7 linked regions of the Homo sapiens genome follow. The protein of the gene in region 6 interacts with the protein of the main gene of each other region in a biochemical or structural test. Each region holds a gene or a part of one and is shown on either strand. Other genes may lie near its edges.

What was found.
Region 1: the proteins of PDZRN3 (region 6) and TMIGD1 interact in a test that uses a peptide from one of them, tested with the Homo sapiens proteins (one large-scale study listed by IntAct).
Region 2: the proteins of PDZRN3 (region 6) and PARD3B interact in a test that uses a peptide from one of them, tested with the Homo sapiens proteins (one large-scale study listed by IntAct).
Region 3: the proteins of PDZRN3 (region 6) and CGN interact in a test that uses a peptide from one of them, tested with the Homo sapiens proteins (one large-scale study listed by IntAct).
Region 4: the proteins of PDZRN3 (region 6) and SIPA1 interact in a test that uses a peptide from one of them, tested with the Homo sapiens proteins (one large-scale study listed by IntAct).
Region 5: the proteins of PDZRN3 (region 6) and CTNNA2 interact in a test that uses a peptide from one of them, tested with the Homo sapiens proteins (one large-scale study listed by IntAct).
Region 7: the proteins of PDZRN3 (region 6) and KIDINS220 interact in a test that uses a peptide from one of them, tested with the Homo sapiens proteins (one large-scale study listed by IntAct).

What each region holds. Positions count from the first base shown.
Region 1 is NC_000017.11:30,317,058-30,320,557, forward strand, and holds part of TMIGD1 (transmembrane and immunoglobulin domain-containing protein 1 isoform 1 precursor), read right to left. Parts: intron 1,857-3,500; coding exon 1,753-1,856; intron 177-1,752; coding exon 136-176; intron 1-135. UniProt on the Homo sapiens protein: May control cell-cell adhesion, cell migration and proliferation, cell morphology, and protects renal epithelial cells from oxidative cell injury to promote cell survival.
Region 2 is NC_000002.12:205,118,975-205,122,474, reverse strand, and holds part of PARD3B (partitioning defective 3 homolog B), read right to left. Parts: coding exon 3,429-3,500; intron 885-3,428; coding exon 526-884; intron 1-525. UniProt on the Homo sapiens protein: Putative adapter protein involved in asymmetrical cell division and cell polarization processes. May play a role in the formation of epithelial tight junctions.
Region 3 is NC_000001.11:151,531,887-151,535,386, reverse strand, and holds part of CGN (cingulin), read right to left. Parts: intron 2,986-3,500; coding exon 2,815-2,985; intron 1,413-2,814; coding exon 1,251-1,412; intron 346-1,250; coding exon 256-345; intron 1-255. UniProt on the Homo sapiens protein: Probably plays a role in the formation and regulation of the tight junction (TJ) paracellular permeability barrier.
Region 4 is NC_000011.10:65,641,101-65,644,600, reverse strand, and holds part of SIPA1 (signal-induced proliferation-associated protein 1), read right to left. Parts: coding exon 3,001-3,500; intron 2,352-3,000; coding exon 2,224-2,351; intron 2,139-2,223; coding exon 1,962-2,138; intron 1-1,961. UniProt on the Homo sapiens protein: GTPase activator for the nuclear Ras-related regulatory proteins Rap1 and Rap2 in vitro, converting them to the putatively inactive GDP-bound state. Affects cell cycle progression.
Region 5 is NC_000002.12:79,908,051-79,911,550, reverse strand, and holds part of CTNNA2 (catenin alpha-2), read right to left. Parts: intron 1,958-3,500; coding exon 1,754-1,957; intron 1-1,753. UniProt on the Homo sapiens protein: May function as a linker between cadherin adhesion receptors and the cytoskeleton to regulate cell-cell adhesion and differentiation in the nervous system. Required for proper regulation of cortical neuronal migration and neurite growth.
Region 6 is NC_000003.12:73,618,442-73,621,941, forward strand, and holds part of PDZRN3 (E3 ubiquitin-protein ligase PDZRN3), read right to left. Parts: intron 1-3,500. UniProt on the Homo sapiens protein: E3 ubiquitin-protein ligase. Plays an important role in regulating the surface level of MUSK on myotubes. Mediates the ubiquitination of MUSK, promoting its endocytosis and lysosomal degradation. Might contribute to terminal myogenic differentiation.
Region 7 is NC_000002.12:8,778,614-8,782,113, reverse strand, and holds part of KIDINS220 (kinase D-interacting substrate of 220 kDa), read left to right. Parts: intron 1-2,299; coding exon 2,300-2,440; intron 2,441-2,974; coding exon 2,975-3,218; intron 3,219-3,386; coding exon 3,387-3,475; intron 3,476-3,500. UniProt on the Homo sapiens protein: Promotes a prolonged MAP-kinase signaling by neurotrophins through activation of a Rap1-dependent mechanism. Provides a docking site for the CRKL-C3G complex, resulting in Rap1-dependent sustained ERK activation.

The sequences.
Region 1 (3,500 bases), on a different chromosome or scaffold from region 6:
CCTCCACCTTCTATTCTCCTTTGAACCCCTTCCCCTTCCAGCACCTCCCATCTCTGGAGTTTGTCTAGAGTGATGCATATCACTGCTATTCATCTGCTTATTTAAAAAGCACTGGTCCCGGCCTAGAGTACTTACAGAGCTGTTTCACTGTGAGGGTCTTTATCCTTCATGCAGAGCTAAAAGCAAACATGGCAGTAAATTAGCCTGCTTTTTAAGGCCCATGGAGAAATATTTTGAATGCATTAAGATGGCTCGAGGACAGGTGTGTGTCCTGTGCACACCTCTGCACTGGCTCAGGCGTCATTTTTGGGGCCACACTAGTAGTTTTTATTAAACTCAAAGAAGATGTAACTCTTAGTTAAGATGCTTCCAGTGTCTTAGATACTTGAGTATTTACTTTTTTATAGAAAAAAAAATGCGGCCGAGTGCAGTGGCTCACACCTGTAATCCCAGAACTTTGGGAGGCCAAGGCAGATGGATCATTTGAGGTCAGGATTTCAAGACCAGCCTGGCCAACATGGTGAAACCCTGTCTCTACTAAAAATACAAAAAAACAGCCAGGCATGGTGCCACATGCCTGTAGTCCCAGTTACTCTGGAGGCTGAGGCAGGAGAATGGTGTGAACCTGGGAGGTGGAGCTTGCAGTGAGCTGAGATCACGCCACTGCACTCCAGCCAGGGTGACAGAGCAAGAATCCATCTCAAAAAAAAAAAAGAAAAAAATGCTTTGTGGCTGGGTGTGGTGGCTCATGCCTGTAATCCTAGTGCTTTGGGAGGCTGAGGCAGGCAGATCACTTGAGCTCAGGAGTTCGAGACCAGCCTGGGCAACATGGCAAAACCCTGTCTACAAAAAATACAGAAATTAGCCGGGCACGGTGGTGCATGCCTGTGGTCCCAGCTACTAGGGAGGCTGAGGTGGGAGGATCACTTGAGCCCAGGAGGTTGAGGCTACAGTGAGCTGTGATCAAGGCACTGCACTCCAGCCTGGGAGAGAGAGTAAAACTCTATCTCAAAAAAATAAAAAAAGAAAGAAAGGAAGACAGAAAGAAAGAAAGAAAAGAAACAACAACAACTAAAATATGCTTGGGATTGGAATAGGGGGTGGAGTGAATTTCTTCTTGAGAGACATGGCTGCCCTGTTGCTATGTGTTCCAAGGAGAATGCCCCTTGCTGAATGATGAACTCAGCCTAGGGCTTTCTGCCTTTTTTGCTCTCCTTTGGCACTGAATTAGCTGGCAGAGTCAAATGCATGGCATTAACCTAAGCATGCACGTATTCTGAATCATACCAACCAACGAGGATAACCACTTTATAATTCAAACACCAGTCCACTACAGCCAGGGCATGTGGCTATAGTCCAGAAGTGAGCAGCCAATGCCATCTTTTCCATGCAGATCTCTGAATCTAGAGCGGATGTTCCTCCCTATATTTATTTATTATACCACAGGTATCATAGCAACAATAAAGGGCAATTTAAAAGGAGGAAAATCAGCCCCCAATTGCCTACCCCTGGCAACACAGCTATTTTCAATTCAGGCTTTGCCCATGTGCACTTCTCTTCTTTGTAAATCTGTACTCATAATGTACATATAATTTTTATTCCCTTGAGCAACTGTATTTTAGATCTCATGGTATAAAGACCAGATTTGACTTTGCCAAGAAGGGTTCCTAACTGAAGTCACTTATATTTCTAGCTTTCTGCCTTTATTCAGATGATGGCTTTTTACTTAAATAGCTCAGAATACTTAGATACCTTCATTATTTTCTTTCTTCTAGCAATCAGTCCAAAGCACAATGTCAGAAAGATCACAACACATGCAGCAATAATGGGCTCTATTGGTACACCCACAGTTTTATCTGTAGGAAATGCAAACACAGGGAATAAGAATGAACATTTATATACTTCCAATACGTCCCAGCAATGGTGCCTTGAACTTTATGTGTGTCATCCCCTTAATTAAACCTTCTCAACAATCTCAAAAAGTAGGTATGATTGTCCTCATTTCACAGGTGAGGAACCAGGAGGTTTGAGGGGTTAGAGTGCTTGTTCAAAGTCATAGAATTAGGCCGGGTGCAGTGGCTCATGCCTGGAATCCCAGCACTTTGGAAGGTTGAGGCGGGCAGATCACTTGACGTCAGGAGTTCAAGACCAGCCTGGCCCACATGGTGAAACCCCATCTGTAAAAAAAAAAGAAAAAAAAAAAAATATATATATATATATAGCTGGGCATGGTGGCAAGTGCCTGTAGTCCCAGCTACTTGGGAGACTGAGGCAGGAGAATTGCTTGGTCCCAGGAGACAGAGGTTGCAGTGAGCCAGGGTCGCGCTACTGCACTCCAGTCTGGGTGACAGAGCAAGACTCTCTCTGTCTCCAAAAAAAAAAAAAAAAAAAAAAGTCACAGAACTGGTAAATGGTAGAGGCAGGTTTTGAATCAATTCCTTTGTGGAATAATAATTTATTGTAATATGAGTAACTCCCCTAAAACAAGTAGACCATTTTGTGCTTCCTTCACCCACAGTTTTTGCCACACACAGAGCAGAAGTAGATTGAAGTCAACGATTTTGCCTGGATTTTGAAAAGTCCAAAATATATTGGGAAGTATCCTGGGGTGGGTGAGGGAAGAGAGGGAGGAAGGCTTTGAGAGCAAGAAGAGAAAGGGTGGAGAGCTTTCTGGACTAAGAAGGAGAGAGAGGTCTGTGGGCCTCAAAAGCAGTGGGGAGCCTTGTACCTGTACTGCAATGGTGCCCCAAGCAGGTGACAAGACATTATAGAAGGTAGGTGGCTGCATAGTGTCTCTAGGGAAGTAGGACTCTAAGCATGAGCCTTCCCAACCTTGGCAAAGTTTTCTGCATCTCTCTAAATGCCATGCAAAGAGAGAGAGCCTACTTCTAACTTGGACTAGGAAGAGATCAGCAGCAACCATGACAGCTTGGAAGTGAAAGCCTACCCCTTTATTTTCTAAACACCAGGTCAACTGAGAGCTATTTTTTTTTTTTTGAGACGGAGTTTTGCTCCTGTTGCCCAGGCTGGAGTACGGTGGTGCAATCTCGGCTCACTGCAATCTCTGCCTCCCAGGTTCAAGTAATTCTCCTGCCTCAGCCTCCCGAGTAGCTGCAATTACAGGCACGTGCTACCATACCGAGATAATTTTTGTATTTTTAGTAGAGACGGGGTTTCACTGTGTTAGCCAGGATGGTCTCAATCTCCTGACCTTGTGATCCGCCTTCCTTGGCCTCCCTAAGTGCTTGGATTACAGGTATGAGCCACCGCACCGGGCCAAGAGCTACTTTATTTATCAGTCACTATAGGCATAGTGCCTGTGTTTGCAAGCTTTCTAAGAGCCTTTGAAAATATTTGAGACCCAGAAAAAAATGATTGGCCCCAAGATATGAAAAGAAAGTAGCAAAATTAATCAAAATTAATCAATGTTTAAGCATCTGTAAAATGCAACCTGGCATCAACTCTAACCGAACTGTTAAATAATAATGTTTAAACCTCAA
Region 2 (3,500 bases), on a different chromosome or scaffold from region 6:
GATGAAGAAAGAAAATATTATACATGCTTTTGAAATTAGGTATGTTTTAAATGTTTGTGACGTTGAATCAGAGAAATTAGTAAACATTACATATTTGCTTTCTGAGGAGTAAATTTTTGTTGTTAGAAGACTGTCTTAGAAAAACAATATGCTTTTTGGACATGGCCTAAAGGATGCTTCAAGAATCACTAATCGTGCTCAGAACAGGGACAACTGAATTTTCATGCCTATTTGGTATTAAGTTGTAATACAATATTGCTCTGTTGATATCAGGTTTGCAATGATTCTTTCCACTTCCCAACATGTCTTTATTATTTTCTTGTTTAAAATAATCTATACACTCCGAAGAAAAGAATAAAAAAGTACAATTTCAAGAAATTTAAGTTACCTAAGTATACACTTAAATCTATTCTTTGATACAATTAAATGAAGGGAGAATTAACTAAATTAGCCTTAATGCATTTCTCTTAACCAATTTTACATGTTACAATAATAGAATGCTATTAGGCATAATTTAATAATTACCTTTCTTTAGGTCAATCTTAATTTTCTTTGCATTTTTATTGCTGCCAAATCCCATGAGAGGCGAGAGTGAGGGAGAGGATGGTTTTCCTCCCAGCCTTGGTACTCGGGGACTCTTGTTTTGTTGCAGGGAAGCTGATGCATCTGTTTCAGGACTATCGGTTCCTGTGAGATTTGCTGTCTTTAGTCCCGATTTTCCATGGACAGGAGGCGGCACTTTGGTTTTCAAAACGCCATCATTATTACCAAAAATGTTAAGAGAGCCAATGACTGACTTTTCATACTGTTCACGGTTTTGTGGAGGAAGCACGTGGAGGAGCACACTTGGAGATTTCATTGCCTGGCGGAAGACATCTTGAGCCCTGGAAAGAAAGTTGATAAATGTATGATGACCCTGCTTTGAGGTGCAGCATCTTCTAAAGTACCCCAGGAGGATGGCAACCAAGAGCAGCACAGTGGCTAATCATAGGAGACACGATCAATATTCCTATCAGAATGACTTTGCCAACTACATACTAGTTACCACTTACTATTTGCACTAGGTGCCCCTGCACTAGCTTATACATGCATTATTAGCATGCATCCTTCTCTAATTTAGAAAGCACATTCGGTAAGTATAAATAGCTTTCATTTCACGGACATGGAAGTTGAGGCTCAGAGAGATGAAATAATTTATCCAATGACCCACAGCTTTTACATGTTTCTAAAGATGAAAATCTAACCAGAAGTGATTACCAAAGTGAATATAAAAAGCAAAATAGATATTTTGGATCAGATCATTAGTTAGGTTTCTTTTAGGACATCCTTCTAAAGTACAGATCTTCTCTAACATGGGTTGTGTTACACAAGTTCAAGTTTGACATCCATGTTTGCTCATGGAGACATTTTGGCAGGTGCTTTGGCTGTGCCAAAATGTCTCAGTGGAATTTCAATCCAACATGCACCCTTCCTGTTACTCTCACACAGAGCAACTGTGTTTTTCACTTTTATGACCTAACACTTTGTGTTCTTCCTCAAACTTCTTATAACATTTTCTTCTTCCTCATGCCTCTAGATGCCCTGTGCCCAGGTCAAACAACTACCTTTCCCACTCTTTCTTGCCCAGAAGATATAAATGAAGGCGTTAAAGGAAAGCTCTTTAGAAGCGGCTGGTTCAGTAGAGAGACAAAAACTTTTATTGTTCTCCTGTTTCTCTTCCCTATTTCTTGAAACTCAGAAGTGACTGAGGAAACTCAGCAGCCATCTTGTGCCCATTTTTCCACTGAAGGATAGTAGCCACATGGCGAGATGGCAAAGCAGAAAACGGAAGCTGCCTGACCCACTGGCGGCTGTGCAGCTGCCGCACTAACTGTGGAGTGCCCTCTTCCACGTTTGCTTGTTGCTAGGAAAAATTAATGTTAATCTTGTTTCAGCTATTCTTATTTCAGGTCTCTGTTCCTAGCAGCCACAGCACATAATAACTAATCATAATCCCAACTGCAATCTGATTCCTTAAACCCTACCCCGCACCCCCCTTTCTGAAGTGCTTAATTCTGCAAATTGTTAGGGGAGAAGGAAGATTTCACATAGGCCTAACTCCACCTAACTCCTGTGGTCAGTTCCCCTATGTTATTTTTGCTTGCATAGGAATCAGTTTCTACTCCATACTAACTCTATACTAAATTTTTATGAGCCTCAGTTTCCACCTCTATAAAACAGAAGTAATAATGATTGCTTTGCATAATTATCAAGTCCTTGTGAAAAAGCACAGTAGTATATTAAAAATTATTACTAACTATAGTTTTGTCTATCATTCATTATTTTAACACAATAGATTCTTCTAAGGTTTCATTTCTTTTCATACTTAGCAGCCAGTACCCACTTTTCCTCGACCCACAACCACTCATCTTTGTCCACAAACACGCATACAATATTGACAACTAATGCCCAGCGAGAAGATGTATTAGGAGCTGTTTTGGTCAGAAACAAGAGGGTGGTGATGACTCCCAAGGATTATTAGTACTTAGTCCTTTGGTCCAGAATCCCACTGCAATGCCAACACACATTAAAAAAATATGCATCAGATTACTATACACTCTAATTCCTGGGTACAGGAAGCTATTCCCTTAACATTTTCACATGCAGAAAGATGATTTCTTGAGGGAGACAGTATTATTTATTTATTTATTTTGAAGACGGAGTTTCTCCCTGTCACCCAGGGTGGAGTGCAAAGGCGCGATCTCGGCTCACCGCAACCTCTGTCCCCCAGGTTCAAGCGATTCTCCTGCCTCAGCCTCCCAAGTAGCTGGGATTACAGGCGCGTACCACCACGCCTGGCTAATTTTTCTCGTACCTTTAGTAGAGATGGGGTTTCACCATATTGGCCAGTTGGTCTTGAACTCCTGACCTCATGATCTGCCCTCCTCGGCCCCCCAAAATGCTGGGATTACAGGCATGAACCACTCCGCCTGGCCAGGAGACGGTATTTTATTTTTTCTGTTTGTTTCTATGATTCGGTGAGTCCTCAGACATCTCTCACAGATTTTTTAGTTTAAGGAAGACTGCTGACACCAAGAAAGTTAATTAATAAGCTGAACCAACAGTCTGTGAAAAGAGCCGTTAAATACCAGTTTAAGTGACCCATAGCCCAAGAAAAACAAACCCGTTCAACGACGCCCCAGTAAAGACAGCCAGGCAGGAAGGCTTGTGATATTCTGTAGTTTAGCATTCTCAGACCTGCCAGAGACATGTGTGGGCCACCTTTGAGTAGGCTAAAACATTAGAAGCATTCGAAAATGGATATCCTGGATCGTTCAAAGGGAACTGACTAGAAATTCTACCTACTATTTTGATCATAATGAGTTCAGTAATGCTTATAACCATGCTAGGGATCAAGAAAGTAAATAAAACAATGAAAAAATGCTTACTGAGCAAAGGTTTTGTCTACGAGATCCACATTGTTGATTTTTACAATACATTCATTTTCGTGAAATAGTCCC
Region 3 (3,500 bases), on a different chromosome or scaffold from region 6:
AACCAAAGAAGCCCCAATTCAGGTCAGAGAACAGCCCAGGCCACCAGGATCCCTTCCTCCATGCAAATCATTGGCTTCTTTCCACCCAAGGAAACTGGCCAACCTTTCCCAAAGCAGACAAAACCCTGAAGGAGACCCAGCCACGCACAGATTCGGCAGCCAGATGATGAAAGATGGGAGGGTAGAGTTGTTTTTGAGAGAACCAAGAGGTGATGCAGTCAGGGGTAAACAGAGATGAGGGGTGGGGGCGGTTACCTGGTCCCGGCCACGATTCACCCGATCTGTTAGCAGCTCCACGGTGTTCTTCTCCTCATCTAACTCTGTTTCCAGCCGTGAGACTTTTTCCTAGGACAGAAGAACAAGTAATTCTGTCCCAAATGCTGGACACCAGAATGCCAAACTCAGACCAGGAGCCTCTCAAACTCCAGCATTAACAGACTTTTCTCTCTTGCACATCCCAGTAACCTTTTGGTACTTGCCTGGACCCAGAGCCACTATGGAGCCAGCGCCCTCTACTGACCAGATGTGGCATCATGGGCAGGTCGGGGCCATGCTCTGGTGACGGCCCTTTGACAGAAAGGCAAACCCCAGAATCTACTCTTCATTGGAAAACCTTATTTCTCTAATGGGAAAAGAGAGAGAAACCCAAGTACCTGGGCCAAGGCTGAGGTGAAGAGACTCAGAAACTGAGGTACTGGAGGCAGTACCACGTAGAGGCTAAGAGTATGTACATGGGACCAGACTGTCCAGTCTGAAAATCAGATTTACCACTTCCTGGCAGTAGACCATGGACAAGTTCATCTCTCTGTGCCTCAGTTTCCTTCATCTGTAAAATGGAGAAAACAAGACTACCTACCCCACAGAGTTATTCTGAGGATTAAGTCTTAAGTGCCTATCACACAGCACAATATGTTTGCTGCTGCTATTATTATTATCAAATATAGCAAACTGAAGAATACTGTTCACTCTAAAGGGGAAACCCACTGCTCAGCTCCAGCCAACTGTTGCCATGCAGACTCAGGACAAGACACTCAGTATTACCATATCTGCCAAATACAAAAGAAACTAGAAATCCAAATTTTTAGGTGACCTCTATAAATTTCTAAACATTGGCAATTGATTCAAAGTTGTTGAAAATACTGCAGCCAAACAAAACTCATCAACTGTGGGCTGTCGGTTTTGACCGCTAGTACAGAAAGAGGCTTGGAAGTCCCACCCTTTTTCCACAGGTCACACCTCAGTGCCCTCACCTCGAGACCCTTCAGCTGCCGGGCCCTGTCGTCCTGGGAACGCTTCTTGTTCTCTGCCTCTTGCTCCAGCCCCTGCAGTCGCTGGGCCAGTAGCTCTTTGTCCAGCCGGGCTGTGTCCCGCTCAGCCTGGGATGCCTGCAGGGCCTGCCGCAGCCTCTGGATCTGGGCAGGGGGTAAAAATGCCACAGCTCAGTGTAGTGAGAAGGTGAGGGTTGAGGGGCAGGAGCAGTCCAGCCCAGTGGGCAGAAACATTTCATCACTGTCACTCTTTAGAATTACCAGTGGCATGATGACAATAAAAAGCAAACTGACTTTTCATCCATTTTCTTTTTTTTTCATTTTTTAGATGGAGTCTCGCTCTGTCGCCCAGGCTGGAGTACAGTGGTGCGATCTCAGCTTACAGCAATCTCCACCTCCCAGGTTCAAGTGATTCTCCTGCCTCGGCCTCCCGAGTAGCTGGGACTACAGGCATGTGCCACCACGCTTGGCTAATTTTTTGTATTTTTAGTAGAGACGGGGTTTCACCGTGTTAGCCAAGATGGTCTCAATCTCCTGACCTCGTGATCTGCCCGCCACAGCCTCCCAAAGTGCTGGGATTACAGGCAAGAGCCACTGCACCTGCCCTCATTAATTTCCTTTATTGTTTTTGTTTTTGTTTTTTGAGATGGAGTCTTGCTCTGTCGCCCAGGCTGGAATGCAGTGGCACAATCGCGGCTCACTGCAACCTCCACCTCCCAGGTTCAAGCAATTCTCCTGCCTCAGCCTCCTGAGTAGCTGGGACTACAGGCATGCACCACCACGCTCAGCTAATTTTTGTATTTTTAGTAAAGACAAGGTTTCACCATGTTGGCCAGGCTGGTCTTGAACACCTGACCTCATGATCTGCCCGCCTCAGCCTCCCAACGTGCTGGGATTACAGGCGTGAGCCACCGTCCTCAGCTTCTTTATTGTTTTTAAAGTCTCTACACAACTTGGAATCACCTGAGGAGTTTTTTTAAATTCTGATCCTGGATCCCATCCCCAGAGATGATGACTGAAGTGGTATGGGATACAGCCTGGGTGTGGGGATTTTTAAAAATCTCCTCAGGTGGCTCTAAGCTACAGAATTTGAAAATCACTGCTCTACAGACAATATATTCCTCCACCCTGCAAGTCATTAGACCTAAACCTGGGCCCCAGGGACCCTTGGCCACAGGTTCAGTTAAGAGGCAAGGACCGGGCTGGGCGCAGTGGCTCATGCCTGTTATCCTAGCATTTTGGGAGGCCGAGGAGGGCGGATCACGAGGTCAGGAGATTGAGACCATCCTGGCTAACACGGTGAAACCCCGTCTCTACTGAAAATATAAAAAATTAGCCAGGCGTGGTGGCAGGCACCTGTAGTCCCAGCTACTTGTGAGGCTGAGGCAGGAGAATGGTGTGAACCCCGGAGGCAGAGCTTGCAGTGAGCCAAGATCGCGCCACTGAACTCCAGCCTGGGCGACAGAGTGAGACTCTGTCTCGGACAAAAAAAAAAAAAAAAAAAAAGAGGCAAGGACCTTCAAACCCAAGGATATTAGACTTCTACCTCATCCTGAAGTCGGCTCAGTCCTCCAGAGGTCTTCTCAGCCTCACTGGCCCAATCCTTGGCCTGGCGCTGGGCATCTGCCACCTCCCGCCGGGCCTTTTCCTTATAATCCTCCAGCTGGGCCTGGAGCTGCTGCAGGGCTTGCTTAGAGTCCTCCCCGATCTTCTCCAACTGAAACACAGAGAAAAGGGTCTTCAGCACTGTACATAAATGACCCTCTCCAGGCCCAGACTCCCAAGACTCTCCCCTAAGGGTCTCCTTCCTGACAAGGCAGCCCTCTCTTGCTCTTTCCTGGGCCTAGGTTCCTAGTATAGCTAATAGTTATATACAGATGTCTGGGTTCAAATCCTGGCTCTACCACTTACTGGTGACCATGTGCAAGTTACTTATCTCTCTGGGTCTCAGTCCCCCATCTGTAAAATGGGATTAAAAATAGTAACTATATCACAAGGTGTTGTGAGAATTACATTAGTTAATTATGTGAAGTTCTGTACTTACAACAGTGCCTGATACAAAGTAAGCCTTAAATGACCATTTCAGCAAACCCAAGGTGCCAATGATTATACGGCGTACCACTAAGAAAAATATGCCAATTAAACTATAACATACCATAAGGTATAAGACACAACTCTATTTCAGAAATGATAAAATGTGCATTTTTCATTGACAAATGATAAGATGTGCAT
Region 4 (3,500 bases), on a different chromosome or scaffold from region 6:
TCTGCCCCCCATGCTCCCATTTCTGTGCCCTCTTCCCGGCTCTTCCCTCTGCGGATAACTGGATAACCATGCCCAGCTCAAGGTGCTCTGAACTCCTCCAAACAGCACAGGCTCCCCTCCAGCGGTCACCTCCCTTTTCTACAACTAAACTTGTCTGCACTTACAGTCCCCACTTCGATTTCATTCCTCCCAACCCCCTGCACCCCCCACTCCCCATATGGTCCCCAGATGTGGCCTCATCCTGGTACCCTCTCAGCCATAGGTGGCACTGGGGATAGCTGGAAACTCACCTTGCCTAGGGCCCCAGGAACCCCGCCCTCTTCTGCCTGGGCCTCTTCTCCACCCATGCTCCTCCCCCTCCCTGGCTGCAGCAAGGATGACACCCCCATCTCCGCCTCCCATTCAGACCGGCCTACCAAACCCCGGGCCTTTTTCTCCGGCTGCCTAATGTCTCACCTTGCTGTGACTCCCCCACCCTGCTCCTCCTCCTTAAACCACCACTCCTGGGGGCCAAGAAGCTGGGAAATCCTAGCACTTCACCCCTTCCAGTCAGCCACATGACTACCCAGTCCTTCCTGGACTGTCACCTCCTCTTCACCTCCACTATCGCTGCCACTGTGTCTAGCCTGGGCAACTGCAATAGCCTTCAGCCTGGCATCCCCGCCCCGTACAGTCTAGTCCCCATGCTGCAGCCAGAGAGCTGCCCCTCTCAGATCTGCACCGTATCCCTCCATGGCTCCCCAGTGTCCACGGGAACAAATGCAAGCTTCTCCCCCGCCCCTCCCCACAATCCCAACCCCAGCCACGCTGAACTGACTGCCTAATGTGCCATGCTCTCATTCTCCAAGCCTTTGCACAAGTTATTCCTTCTGACCAGAAAACACCTGCTTATCCGGGCCTGAGCCCTTTTGTGTTCTCCATGCTGGAAAACCCTGGCCAAGGAAGGGCTCTCATCACTACCGTCGTGGCCCAGGCAGCCCTCAACATTCCCTTTCAGTGTTCCAGTACTGCTCCTGTGTTTCAGCAGTTCTCTGTGGGTCTCTTTCTCCCACCCAGCTGTGAGCTACTCAAGCAAAGCACCTGGTCTAGACCTGTCCCCAGCATCCAGTCTGAGGCCTGGCACCAAAAAGGTCTAAGAAATGTTTGTTGAATGACTGATGGGTTGAATGATACAGAGGAGAAGACTCAGCCAATGGGCAGCTTTCAGCATGGAGTGGGGGATGGAAGGAGCCGCTCCAGGAAGCTGTGAGCACCACATGTTAGAGGAAACCCAGCAGGGGCTGTGGGGGAAATTGGCCAGGAATGATGCGGGAACTGCAGGACCAGTGGGGTGAGTCAGACCAGGGCATCTAGGGCTGCAAATATCTTTTTAAAATGCAGACTCTGGGCCAAGGGCAGTGGCTCATGCCTGTAATCCCAGCACTTTGGGAGGCCGAGGTGGGCAGATCACAAGGTCAGGAGTTCAAAACCAGCGTGGCCAACATGGTAAAACCCCCATCTCTACTACAAATACAAAAATTAGCTGGGCGTGGTGGCATGCACCTGTAATCCCAGCTACTCAGGAGGCTGAGGCAGGAGAATCTCTTGAACCCGGAAGGCAGAGGTTGCAGTGAGCTGAGATTCCACCATTGCACTCCAGCCTGGGTGACAGAGCGAGACTCCATCTCAAAATAAATAAATAAATAAATAAATAAATAAAGTGCAAACTCTGATTCAGATGGTCTGGGGTGGGGCCCCAGAATCTGCATTTCTACATGATGTGGATACTGCTGGTCTACAGAGCTCACTTTGAGACGCAAGGCTCCAGATGAACTCTGATGCCCTGTCTCTGAAAAGCCAGCTCTTCTGGGGTCACCACCCAGCCCAGGATCAGGGTCAAGGCTAGGGGTTTGGGAGCTGGGCAGGCTGGGTTCAGACTGGGGCCAGCTGTATGGCTGGGGGCTCCGCGGCCCGCCACTCACCACTTGCTCATCCAGTGTGAGCAGCGTCCGTGGTACCTTGGGTGAAGCTGAGCCCAGGCGCAGGCAGCTGGGGCTCAGCTGCGGCGCCACGTGCTCCAGAAGTTTCCTTGGGGACAGACCCCGTGGGGGCCCCGGCGGCAGCGCGTCCTCCGAGATGGTGCCACGGAGTGTCCGGAGCTGAGGAAGGGGTGTAAGGGCACTCAGGATGCATACAAGGTGTCGGGGAGGCAACCCACGTCCTGATCCCGCGATCCCGGCCCACCTGCGTGGTCCGCACGATGACGCGGTAGCTGTGCAGGGTGCCCCCTCCGCTGCCCTCCTTCTCCTCCCGCCGCAGGCTCACTGCCACCGGGCCCAGCGACTCGTCCATCCCGAAGAAGTTCTGATGTTCTGGGGGACCGCGCCGAAGAAAACGATTGGTCCCGCCCTCTGGCAGCCCCGCCCCCGCTCGACCACGCGCATCACTAAGCCCCGCCCTAGGCTTCATCTCACCACCAAATGTTGACCCTAGACTAAGTCCCGCCCCTCTGTAGCCCCGAGCTCAATATCTTGATCTCAACCCTGACCCAGAGGTGGACCCAGACCCAGACCTAGACCCACGCGGCCAGCTCCCAGGCCTAAATCCTGCCTTGGCTCCACCCACCACGCCCTCATTCTCCCTTCTATGTCCTGGAGCCCTCTCTCCGCAGTGCTGGTGCGAACAAGGTTCACGGATGCAGGGATTTGAGGCCTGAGTTTTCACCCCACAGAAAAGCCCATAGGGAATCTCTCCCCAGCCTGGCAGGTTGAACCAGATGGAGGATGAACCAATACGGAGGCAGAGGGACCAGCCCTGGCTGGGGGTGAGGAGCCAGGGATTAGCCTTAAGAAGGTGGTTGAAAGTAGGTCCAGGAGGACCCCAGCTCAGCTCTTGAGCCCTCCCAGGGCCAGGGACTTTACAGGAAATGGACAGTTCATGAGCCCTACTGTGTGCACTGCAGGTGACAGGGACCTCTTCTTCAGCCCCCCTCCTCCACTCCCTGGAACTGCCTTTCCTCACCTTTGCCATAGAAGTATTTGCGGTAGTAGCCAGCACCCAGGTCTGCGTGCTCCAGGCTGTAGGCCGAGGTTCGGTTCTGTGGCTCCTCCAGGATGGACACGGCCGCGTTGGGCAGTGCAGGGGGCACAGGTGGGGATGCTGGTCCACCCAGGCCTAGCTCACCCTCACCCCCGAGCTCACACACAAAGCCAGGTGCCCCATGCAGCAGGTCCGAGCTGGCAGCCTGGTCCTCGGCTGAAGCCAGGGTCCCAGAGCTGGCCTCTGAGTGGCTCCCCATCCCCTGAGACCTCGGAGCCCAATCAAAGAGCAGGCTTTGCACGTCATAGTGGGCAAACCATCGAGGCTCAAGCACTGGTGGGAAGGCAGGCTCTGGTTCCTCTGCTGGCAGCCCCAGCAGTGCCAGCGGGTCAGTGAAGAGCCGGGTGGAAGTGGCTGCAGGTCGGCTGGCCTCTTCGTGGCTGTGGGCACGGGCACGGGGGCTGGCTGGCGTGGGGGGCCTG
Region 5 (3,500 bases), on a different chromosome or scaffold from region 6:
TGCATGAGATTACACTGAAAGAAAAACTTCTAGTTGGCAGGATTCTAGACACCAAACTGAAAATTACATGTCACGTGTTGATCAACTCTTATTTAGTCACGTTCTGTGATTTCTATTTAGAAGAACATACTTTTTTGTCTGATTTATTTATATTGAGATCTTAACCATCACTGTGATCTCTGTAGTTTCTACTTCCTTCTTTGGCAGTAACTATTCATTAATAGAACCACTAGCGTGCCTTAATGTAAAACCAAATTCCACATCCATGTAATTAGCCCTTTGCTATTTTGTTAACAACAACAACGAACAAACAAACAGCGTCTCAGATTTCATAAGCATTCTTCGTTGACACATCTGCTATTCAAAAGATTCACTCAGCTGGGAGACTGTGGGGTCAACATTTCTAGCTGCACCCTACGTAATACCATGGATCAAAATTACAGAAAGTGTTGGTCATCCAGGGTCCTATAGAGACGTCCTCATAAGCAGCTGGGTGCCACATGATGCATCCACATTTTATTCTTTGTGTGCTGAAAAAGGCCAAGTCTTCCAAAATCAAAGAATCTGAAGGTTCATGGAAAGGAAACAAATTTTGTTTTTTTTAGTTTGTTAGGTTTTCTCATTGACATCTTTTTGCTTTCTCAGTGAGTTCTCTGGAGGGTCAGCAGGAGGAGCACTGCTACTGTCAACACTCATTCCTTGCTTGCATGTCTGTTAGCTACATATTTTTACTCATGATGGGAGTGGTAAGATGCTGGAGGGAGAGACACTGAATGGCTGCTTTGTTTCAGCATTGCCTCGGGGTGTTCTAATAATACCTAACATGGACTTCAGTAGCTGTGAGCAGATTTTCAGTGTCTCTGTTACCCACCTGGTAGCTATACAGGGCATTCCTTCAAAATGTAATATCGAGACCTCACTTTATCTACATTTTTCCCCAATTTGTGCTAAATTATCTCAAACCCGAAAGTCCAGGAAAGGGGGAAGCACAGATCATCCACTGTTGCAAGCATCGCCTCTGCTGAATGAATGTAGCAAATCAATACAGCCATAATTTAGTGCCTTTCAAGGCAAAGAATATGAGTTTCATCACCTTCTTGCAGGTTACAGGTACACAGAAACTGTCACATTTTACAACTATAGGAGAGGATGGCTATTATGTGCCAAAATACAATTAGATACCAGTCATACATACCTATTTGAAAACTTAAGAGACTCACTCTTATAAGCAATTCCTGACTATGAATCAATAAAACACCTCCAAATTTTACTACATTTAGAACTTTTCCTTAAACAACCCTATCCACACGTTTTTTAAACCTAGTAGATTTATTAATGCCTCTTAGGGGTGAAGATTCGCATCTACAGCTATCCTTAGGTTTAAAAGTGCTCTTTGTAACAGAGGACTTACTATATCCTCAGCTGTTTCCATCAATCATCTACCTTTACCAATTGAAATCTTACCTACTTCAAAATGCAGCCACTAAAATGACCGAGAAGAAATCAGCCAAGTAAAAAGTGAAAGAGCTTATTCTCCATCCACCTGTTCCATATTAAAACAAACAAACAAAAAATGGATTCAGAAACAACACACACGACACGCGCTCTCCCAAAGCAGTTCTTTGGTTTCACCTGACTCTCTTTGGTAAACACCTGGTCTGTTCTCTTTTCCTGCTATCTATGCTTCCAAAAGAGCAACACGATTGCAGAACAGAATCCACCAAGACATGAGAATGGAGATCCCAAGACTTACATTATTCATGTACTCGCTGAGCAGGTCCTGGAGCGCCTGCCGCACGGCGTTGCACTCCGCCACGATCCTCTCGCGCCGGTCGTCTCGCGTGCAGGAGGAGTCGGCCATCAGCGCTGCGCCGCTGATGATGCTCTCCAGCCTCTCCTCCAGGGACGGCCGGAACCTGGCCTCGCTGAACGTCATGGGGTCCAGGATAATCTTATTCTGAAAGTATCACACACACACACACAAAAATCAGCAGAGAAGAGAGGTCTGCCTTGGCACCCTGTTTTGAAACCAGAAATATCTGAGGCAAGAACAGGAGTCCCCAAGGAGGAGAAACTGGTTACTCAAATTCTAAAGTTGCCTTGACAAAGTATTAACTTTTTCTAGATATTTTGTCCTAAATGTAATCTTCAGCTAAAAGAGCACATCTTATTTGAAGAATATGTTCTTGGCAAAGGCTATCTCAACGGAAGAGCTTTCAAATAAGATTAGGACACTTTTTTGGCATTTTTAAAATACGTAGCCTTTAAGGAAAGAACATTTCAGTGTAATGCTTTGGGGAATTATATAAAGATTTTAGAGCTAAAACATGATAAATAATCAACATCTTAATTATGCATTAGCTGTGGCTTGTATACACACACGTTAATCCTCCTCATGAGAAGCAGATATTCCCATGGCAGGATGCCTTTTGAAACTTGGGCACATAACACCCAACAGGCATATTCAGTACAGGTTAATTTATGCTAGTGTTCTAGAAAAGGATTCCTAATGTGTGTATGAGACTTGTCACAAATAACTGACAGTATCCTTATAAAGGTATTTACCTGTTTGGAAGGAGCCTATATAAGAGGAAAATAGTGATATTTCCTAAAAGGAAGGCGTCACATAGAACATGAGCTTAGCATTTCCCCAGCCAAGTTTTAGGAGCCTGGAAACATGTGGGCAGAGATGCCCCGAGGTAGATGGAAATATGCGTCCAAAATTCAGGAGCTATAACAGTCTTTATAGGGATCTGGTAAATGTCAGGGGTATTTGGACATAAACTAGTGAATTACATACTAGTAAAGTGAATAGAGCCAGAAGAGCAGGCCAGAGAAGACCCCTATACAGAAGGACCAGAATCAAAAAGGAAGACAGAAAGGGTAGTCAGAAAGATAGAAACAGAACTTGGAAAACTCCCAGCAAATGAGGAGGGTAGAGCGTGATGGTATGTGATCATTAACTGTGTGAAGTCTAGAAGCAAAGGTGACATTGACCAAAGGCTGGTTTCCTTTGGGGAGCCTTTTCTGCCTGAAGCAAAGAAGTTCATTCCACAATGATAAGGTAGAATGACCTGCTGCAGGAAATGGTGTGCTTCATTGGGGGTGCACTCTCAGAGGTCCAAGAACCAGAGTGGCAATGATGGGGCAAATGGTCTTCCAACTGTAGAATACTATGGTGCAATTGCCACTCTGTTACTGCTTCTTTTGACGTTCCTTATTCCTTATATATTCACCAAATTTAAAGAGTTGTAAGAAAAGAACAATTTACCATATTTACAAATACAATACGAAACATAAATGAGAATAGGTAGTTATTCTATTGCTAATCTGCACCTGCCGAAGACCTACTATATGCCTACTACTGTACTTAATGCTAAAAAGAAGGGGAGATAAAAGATGCTTTTATGGATTTTTTATGCTGATGTAGTATATACAATAACTGCTTAAGTTATTACAAAGTGAAGTCCAGCTGTATGCTCTGGGAAAGTTTGTTGTAA
Region 6 (3,500 bases):
AGAATCTAACTTCTAGCCTTAATCTTTCATAATCTGCTACTCCCATTAAAAAAAGAGGTCTATCTAATGAAGAACATGGAGAAGATAATGTATGCACATACAGAAAGCACCTTAAGTGTATGGCACCCAGTGGAACTCAATGAATATTATTTTCTTTTCTTTTAAGCTCCTTGGTCTACGGTCCAATGCATAATTGCCTTATAAATAGATTCTTACTCATCAAATATTTTTATAGCGAGGCAAGCACCATTTCTGAACACAGAAAGAGCCACTTACAGACAAATCTCAACAGAATTGCCAATTCAAATTGTCTGGTTATACTCATTTAATCCAGTGTAGCTGGGTAACATATTTGTAAAACAAATCCTAATTTTCCTTATAAATCACAGAAATGAAATAGAAGTGACAATCTGTAACTTTTTTTTAGCAGAAGTGCGCTGTTTTGTTAGATATACTATGGAATGGCCCTGTGCAGGAGCTTTTCAGAAACAAAATATACTTCATGGTGAATACTCTAACAGATACATTTCAAAGTGTTTGGACATCTGGAACACCTTTTGATACAATTGTCTATCAGATTTACTTATTTCCAGTTCTGAAAAGGACAAAATAGTTTCTAGGATTTGGGGCTTTATAAAACTTGATCTGGGTGGATCTAGTGGAACAAAAATAATGCCTCCCCTAAACCTGAAAACAATTTTGTTAACTGGGTCATCACGGAGAAACTCATTCTTTTTAAACACGAGCCCACTTTTGGTTAGCAACCTGAAAAGTTTTGATGACTGCCAAGACAGGCCTTTCAATCTTGAACTCATCACCAAATGAATACATATCAAGAGCTTACAGTGCACATGGCAATGGATTAGTGCCACAGACATGGTACTGGACAAGACAGACTCTTCCACTTATTTAGTTACAGCTATGATAAATGCCATGCAGGAGGATAACCAAAGTAAGAGTCTCAGGGCACCAGATGTAGTCTGCGAGGTCCGAGAGGCCTGGCTTCCTAGAGGTAGTGATGCTTCAGCTGAGATGAGAATAGAAAGAACCATTGTCTAGTGATAAGCAAATCCTAAGTGCAGACAGAAAGGCTGTGGGCAAGAGGAGAGAAGTGGAAATTTTGCAGGTTATTTAGTGCAGAGTACTTGGTAAGATTGTTCCAGGTAGACAGAAGAGCAAGTGCAAAGGCCTGGAGGCAGAGAGGAGCTCAGGGGCACATGCATCGACTCTCAGAGACATGAGAAGCTGAAAGAAGAGGATGAAGGGGAGAAGAATCCAGGCAGGTGGAAGCCGGTAGGATCCAGAGCATGTTGGACCTTATAGCCAACCAAGAGAAATGGGACAGCATAGGAGGCTTGAGGGAGAGTGATAAAAGATACACATTTATAAGAGATTAATTCCTGATGCTAGGTAAAGAAGGAATTGAAGAGGAGCAAGAAGATTTGTAGAGGAAAGAGTTATGGTCCAGGCAAGAGTGTCTGAGACAAAGGCCAATTTTGCCCCTCAAGGGACGTTTGGCAATGTCCACAAATACTGTTGATACTACTTGGAAAGCGCTACTAGCCTCTAGTAGGTAGGTAGGTAGATGCCCGGGATGTTGCTAAACATCCTACAATGCACAGGTCAGCCTCCCACCCCCATCACCACTACCACCACCACCAACAACACACCCACACCCAAGAATTATCCATTCCAAAATGTTGGCAGTGCTGATTCAGAAACTCTGGTTTGGACCACGGTGGTCATTTGAGTGAGCTGGAGAGCTGTGAATAGATTCAAAATGTATTTAGGAGGTAAAATCCGCAGGATTCAAAGACAGACCGGATGGGAGGTTAAAGAACAAAAGGTATCGAGGATGTATCTCAAGTTTTTCAATCAATCCAAGGAAAGTTATGTCCAGAATTGTTCCTTTCCCAGAAAGAAAAGCAAAAAAGATGTTTGCTCTGGAGTGCTTTTGCTCTAAGAATCAGGGGGTAAGTCAGGATGGGAAACTGAGGCTGGGAGCAGAACTCTTTAACTCACTCAAGTGTAGCAATCCCAAGTCTGCTGCAGCTCAGATGTGGCCTCAGTGAGATCAGAGATGCCTGTCTAGGCTATGATTACCTGTCATTTAACTGCTAGGCAGTCTGGGTTTTTTTTGTTTTTTTTTTTTTGAGACGGAGTCTTGCTCTTTCACCCAGGCCGGAGTGCAGTGGCACTATCTCCGCTTACTGCAAGCTCCGCTTCCCAGGTTCACGCCATTCTCCTGCCTCAGCCTCCCGAGTAGCTGGGACTACAGGTGCCCGCCACCGCGCCCAGCTAATTTTTTGTATTTTTAGTAGAGACGGGGTTTCACCGTGTTAGCCAGGATGGTCTCGATCTCCTGATCTCGTGATCCGCCTGCCTCGGCCTCCCAAAGTGCTGGGATTACAGGCGTGAGCCACTGAGCCCGGCCTAGGCAGTCTGGGTTTTAAAATTTTATCCTGGTCTTAAGAAATTTAGGAAGGTGTTTAGACAATGACCAGTGAAACCATAACTGTGTGAAGACCAATACATGTTTGGTCTATATCTACCTGAGCGTAAGCTCTTCGTCTAGCTTAGCGGCTACTTAAAGGACCAGCATCATCTGGGAGCTCATTGGAAATGCAGAATATCAGGCCCCTGGCCAGCCCTAATGGATCAGAATCTCTAGGGGTGAGACTGAGGAATCTGTGTTAAGCTCTCCAGTGACTCCAATCACGCTAAGGCTTGAGAATCCTTAATATAGCTCACATGGTAGAACAGAAGAGACAACGTCTATGCTGGTACAGCACTAACAAACCCTAAGCGTTCAGCAGGTGTCAAAAAAACTGAAACCTAAGATAATTTAAAGAATGCCACATCATTTGTGCAAGTTCTAGGCTGCTGAAGAGCTGGTACTGAAAATCTGAGTGTTTCTAATCTCCTTCAGCTTATAACAGAGAAGCAAACATTAGGGCTTATTTTAAAAAGAAAATAAAAATGTTGCACATGAGAGTTTCCAGGACATATAAATCCTTCTGCCTTTTAGAAGAGAATAAACAGTACCCAGCAGGAGCAGAGAGCCGGCCCAATGAAATAAACAAGTTCTTAAACAGCTTCCAATGGGAGGAGTTTTATGGTTGACCCAGGAACAGCAAAAGCGTTCAGTAAGGGCCACTGAGGGTTAATTTCGGGGCAAGGAGAGACAGCAAGCTTCCCTAAGGCCTCAGCTGAGGCCAGGCTGGGTCTGAGGCCAGGGAAACTATCTAGGGCAGCTTCTGGGCCAGACCATCCTTTGCTGTTCTCAAGGCTGGCACTGAGGTTGGTAAAAGTTCCAAGCAGGGCTCCAACACCGGAACAAACCTTTCTCCGTAAGTTCAAAATCAACATCTTGTCTCTAAGCTTAACATCCTTCTTTATGCTACCCACTAACTCAACAGAGCCTCAAAAACATCCACAGTTTTGATTCAAGTATCATATTTTTGACTCTGAGGGAGATTTTACCCAAACACTCCAGAAAG
Region 7 (3,500 bases), on a different chromosome or scaffold from region 6:
GAGACAGAGTCTCACTCTGTTGCCCAGGCTGTAGTGCAGTGGTGCGATCCCAGCTTGCTGCAATCTCTGCCTCCTGGGCTCAAGGGATCCTCCCACCTCAGCCTGCCGAGTAGCTGGGACCACAGGCTACACGCCACCACACCTGGCTAATTTTTGTAGATATAGGGTTTCACCATGTTCCCCACACTGGTCTCGAACTCCTGAGCTCAAGCGATCCACCCACCTTGGCCTCCCAAAGTGCTGGGATTATAGGCATGAGCCACTGCACCCAGCCAGATTACTGATTTTATATCTTTCTTCTTTACGAATATATGCATTCAGTGCTATAAATTTTCTTCTCAGCTGTTCTTTTGTTGCGTCCCACAAATTTTGATAAGTTGTGTTTCCATTTTTATTTAGTTCAAAATATTTTAAAATTTCTCTTGAGACTTTTTTCTTTGACCCATGTGTTATTTGGAAGTGTGTTTTTAAATCTCTGCATGTTTTGGGATTTTCCAATTATCGTTCTGTTTTTGACTTCTAGTTTAATTCCACTGAGGGGAAGACATTGTATGCATGATTTCTATTTTAAATTTGTTATGGCGTGTTTTATGGCTCAGAATGTGGTCCATCTTGGTGAATGCTTTATGTGAGTTTGAAAAGAATGTGTATTCTGTTTTTTTTTCTTTTTTTGGATGAAATAAGTGTAGGTGTCAGTTATAGCCAGTTGATTGATGGTGTTGTTGAGCTGAACTGCGTCCTTACTGGTTTTCTGACTGCTGCATCTGTCCTTATAGAATGGTATTGAGGTCTCAAGCTATGATAGTGGATTTATCTATTTCTTCTTGCAGTTCTGTCAGCTTTTGTCTTACATATTTTGATTCTCCTTTCTTAGATATATAAATGTTTAGGATTATTATGTCTCCTTAGAGAATCAGCTCCTTTGTTGTTATGTAATGCCCCCCTTTAATATATATATATTATATATATATAATAATTAATATAGTTACTCCCCCTCTCTTTTGATTGGTGTTGGTATAGCTTTCTCCATTCATTTACTTTTAATCTACGTGTGTCTTTTTATGTAAGGTGGGTTTCTTGTAGATAACATACAATTAGCTCTTATTTTTTGATCATCTCTGACATCTCTTTTAATTGATATCTTTAGAACACTGACGCTCAAAGGGATAATTGGTTTTGATGGATTAATATCTATCGTATTTGTTACTGTTTTCTATTTGTTGCTTGATTTTTGTTCCTATTTTTGTCTTCTACTCTTCTTTTTGTCTTTTATGCTTTTATTGAGCATTTTTTTATGATTCCATTTTCTCACCTTTCTTAGCATATCAGTTGTACTTTTTTTTAAACTGTTTTTTTTGAGTGGTTGCCCTAGGGTTTGCAATATGCATTTATAACTAATCCAAGCCCACTTTCAAGTAATACTATATCACTTCTCAGGTAGTTTATCTTATAATAGCAAAATAATCCTAATTCCTCTCTCCCGTCCCTTGTATCATTGTTGTTACTAATTTCATTTACATTTATAAGCATACATAATATGTACATTATACACACACACACACACCCCCCACCACACACACACACACACACACAGACACACACACACATATATAAGCTTACGTAATCAAGGAGTGGCCACTTCCAAAGTGTTTACATATATGTAGAACCAGAAACCAGCAGTCCTTTTATTTATTTTGAGTTCTATTCCAGATTTTTCCAGTGGAAATACATATTTGGAGTGAGAAACATCATAACAGTAGCATGTTTTTATAAAATAGACTTTTATAAGTTATTCAAAAGAGTTAGCAACTACTGTCTAATAATATAAGTTCCTCTAGAGCCCAGTAAAGATATCTGTTTTTAAAAATAGCAAATTGAACCACCAAAATAAATAATACAGGATTTTCTTTTTCAAAGTGAAAGGTCAGATGCCATCAGGGAGCCAGCAGCAGTGTAGTGCTTTGATCATTTGGATTTGCATCCAGATCTGAATCTTTTCACATTCAGAGCCTCTAATCTTGGCAAGTTAGTCACTCAACCCAGTTTGTTCTTTTTAGAACAGATATGGTAGTGTCTATCCCACAGTGTCATTCTGAGGATCAGCTGCTGTAATTTATGTGTAGTCACTTGGTAAATTGTGAAGCACTCGCTCTTATTTTAAGTGGAAGCACAACTGGCAGCAAGGACTTTGAATGTCTTCTGTTCCTATTAGATGACTTTCTATCACGCTTTCTAAGAAATATGTTTAAGCTTCTTGGATCTTCCTTCAGTGCTTTCTATACCTTCCTTTGCAATACAGGTTCTTAAATGTGAAGTGGAATTGATGGCCAGGATGGCAAAAACCATTGACAGCTTCACTCAGAATCAGACAAGGCTGGTGGTCATCATCGATGGATTAGATGCCTGTGAGCAGGACAAAGTCCTTCAGATGCTGGACACTGTACGTTTGCGCCACCTCAAAAGCCACCATTGTTATGTTGTGGCACTTGAGAGAATGTTTGACTTCACAAATATCTAAAAATAGAACGGAATTGGTTTTTGTTTGAGTAGTTCCTATTTTGTGATTTTTCTTTTGTAAAAACAACCATTCTTTATACAGAAATGTAGCAAGAATAAATGTTTAGTCACAAAGATATTTAAATAATTTTAGCTTAGTGGCACTGTGAGAAAAATGAATAGAGCATCTGTATTCATGAATGTTTCTCATGTGCATTGATTTACCTCTTTAGCAGACTGTAAATGTCTGAAAGAAGGACAATATTAATTTTCTTTGCAGGTTTTATCTATGTCAGATGACAACAAACCTAGATTGAGCTGTCAGTAAAATTTGCTTTTGTGCAGAGTAAGTTTTGATGAAAAGAAATAGTAGTTTAGAAATATTGTCACCAAAAGGTAGCACATATTTTGAAGAGATGCCTTATTCTTTTGGACAATTTAAAATGTATGTCACAACTGTACATTTCTTCTGCCACAGGTCCGAGTTCTGTTTTCAAAAGGCCCGTTCATTGCCATTTTTGCAAGTGATCCACATATTATCATAAAGGCAATTAACCAGAACCTCAATAGTGTGCTTCGGGATTCAAATATAAATGGCCATGACTACATGCGCAACATAGTCCACTTGCCTGTGTTCCTTAATAGTCGTGGACTAAGCAATGCAAGAAAATTTCTCGTAACTTCAGCAACAAATGGAGACGTTCCATGCTCAGATACTACAGGTAAAGCTCAGGCTCCTAAAGTACTTTGAGTTTGAAATAGTTTTGTAGTTTCTTTATGGCGACTCTCCTTTTTACCTTGAAAAATATTGTTGTTGTTTCACATTTCTTTAAATATCATATACAACAGAATTTTGGTGTAAGTGATGCTGTCTTGATAAATTATTTAAGGGATACAGGAAGATGCTGACAGAAGAGTTTCACAGAACAGCCTTGGGGAGATGACAAAACTTGGTAGCAAGACAGCCCTCAATAGACGGGTAAGATGCCATTGGCTTCGAGCTG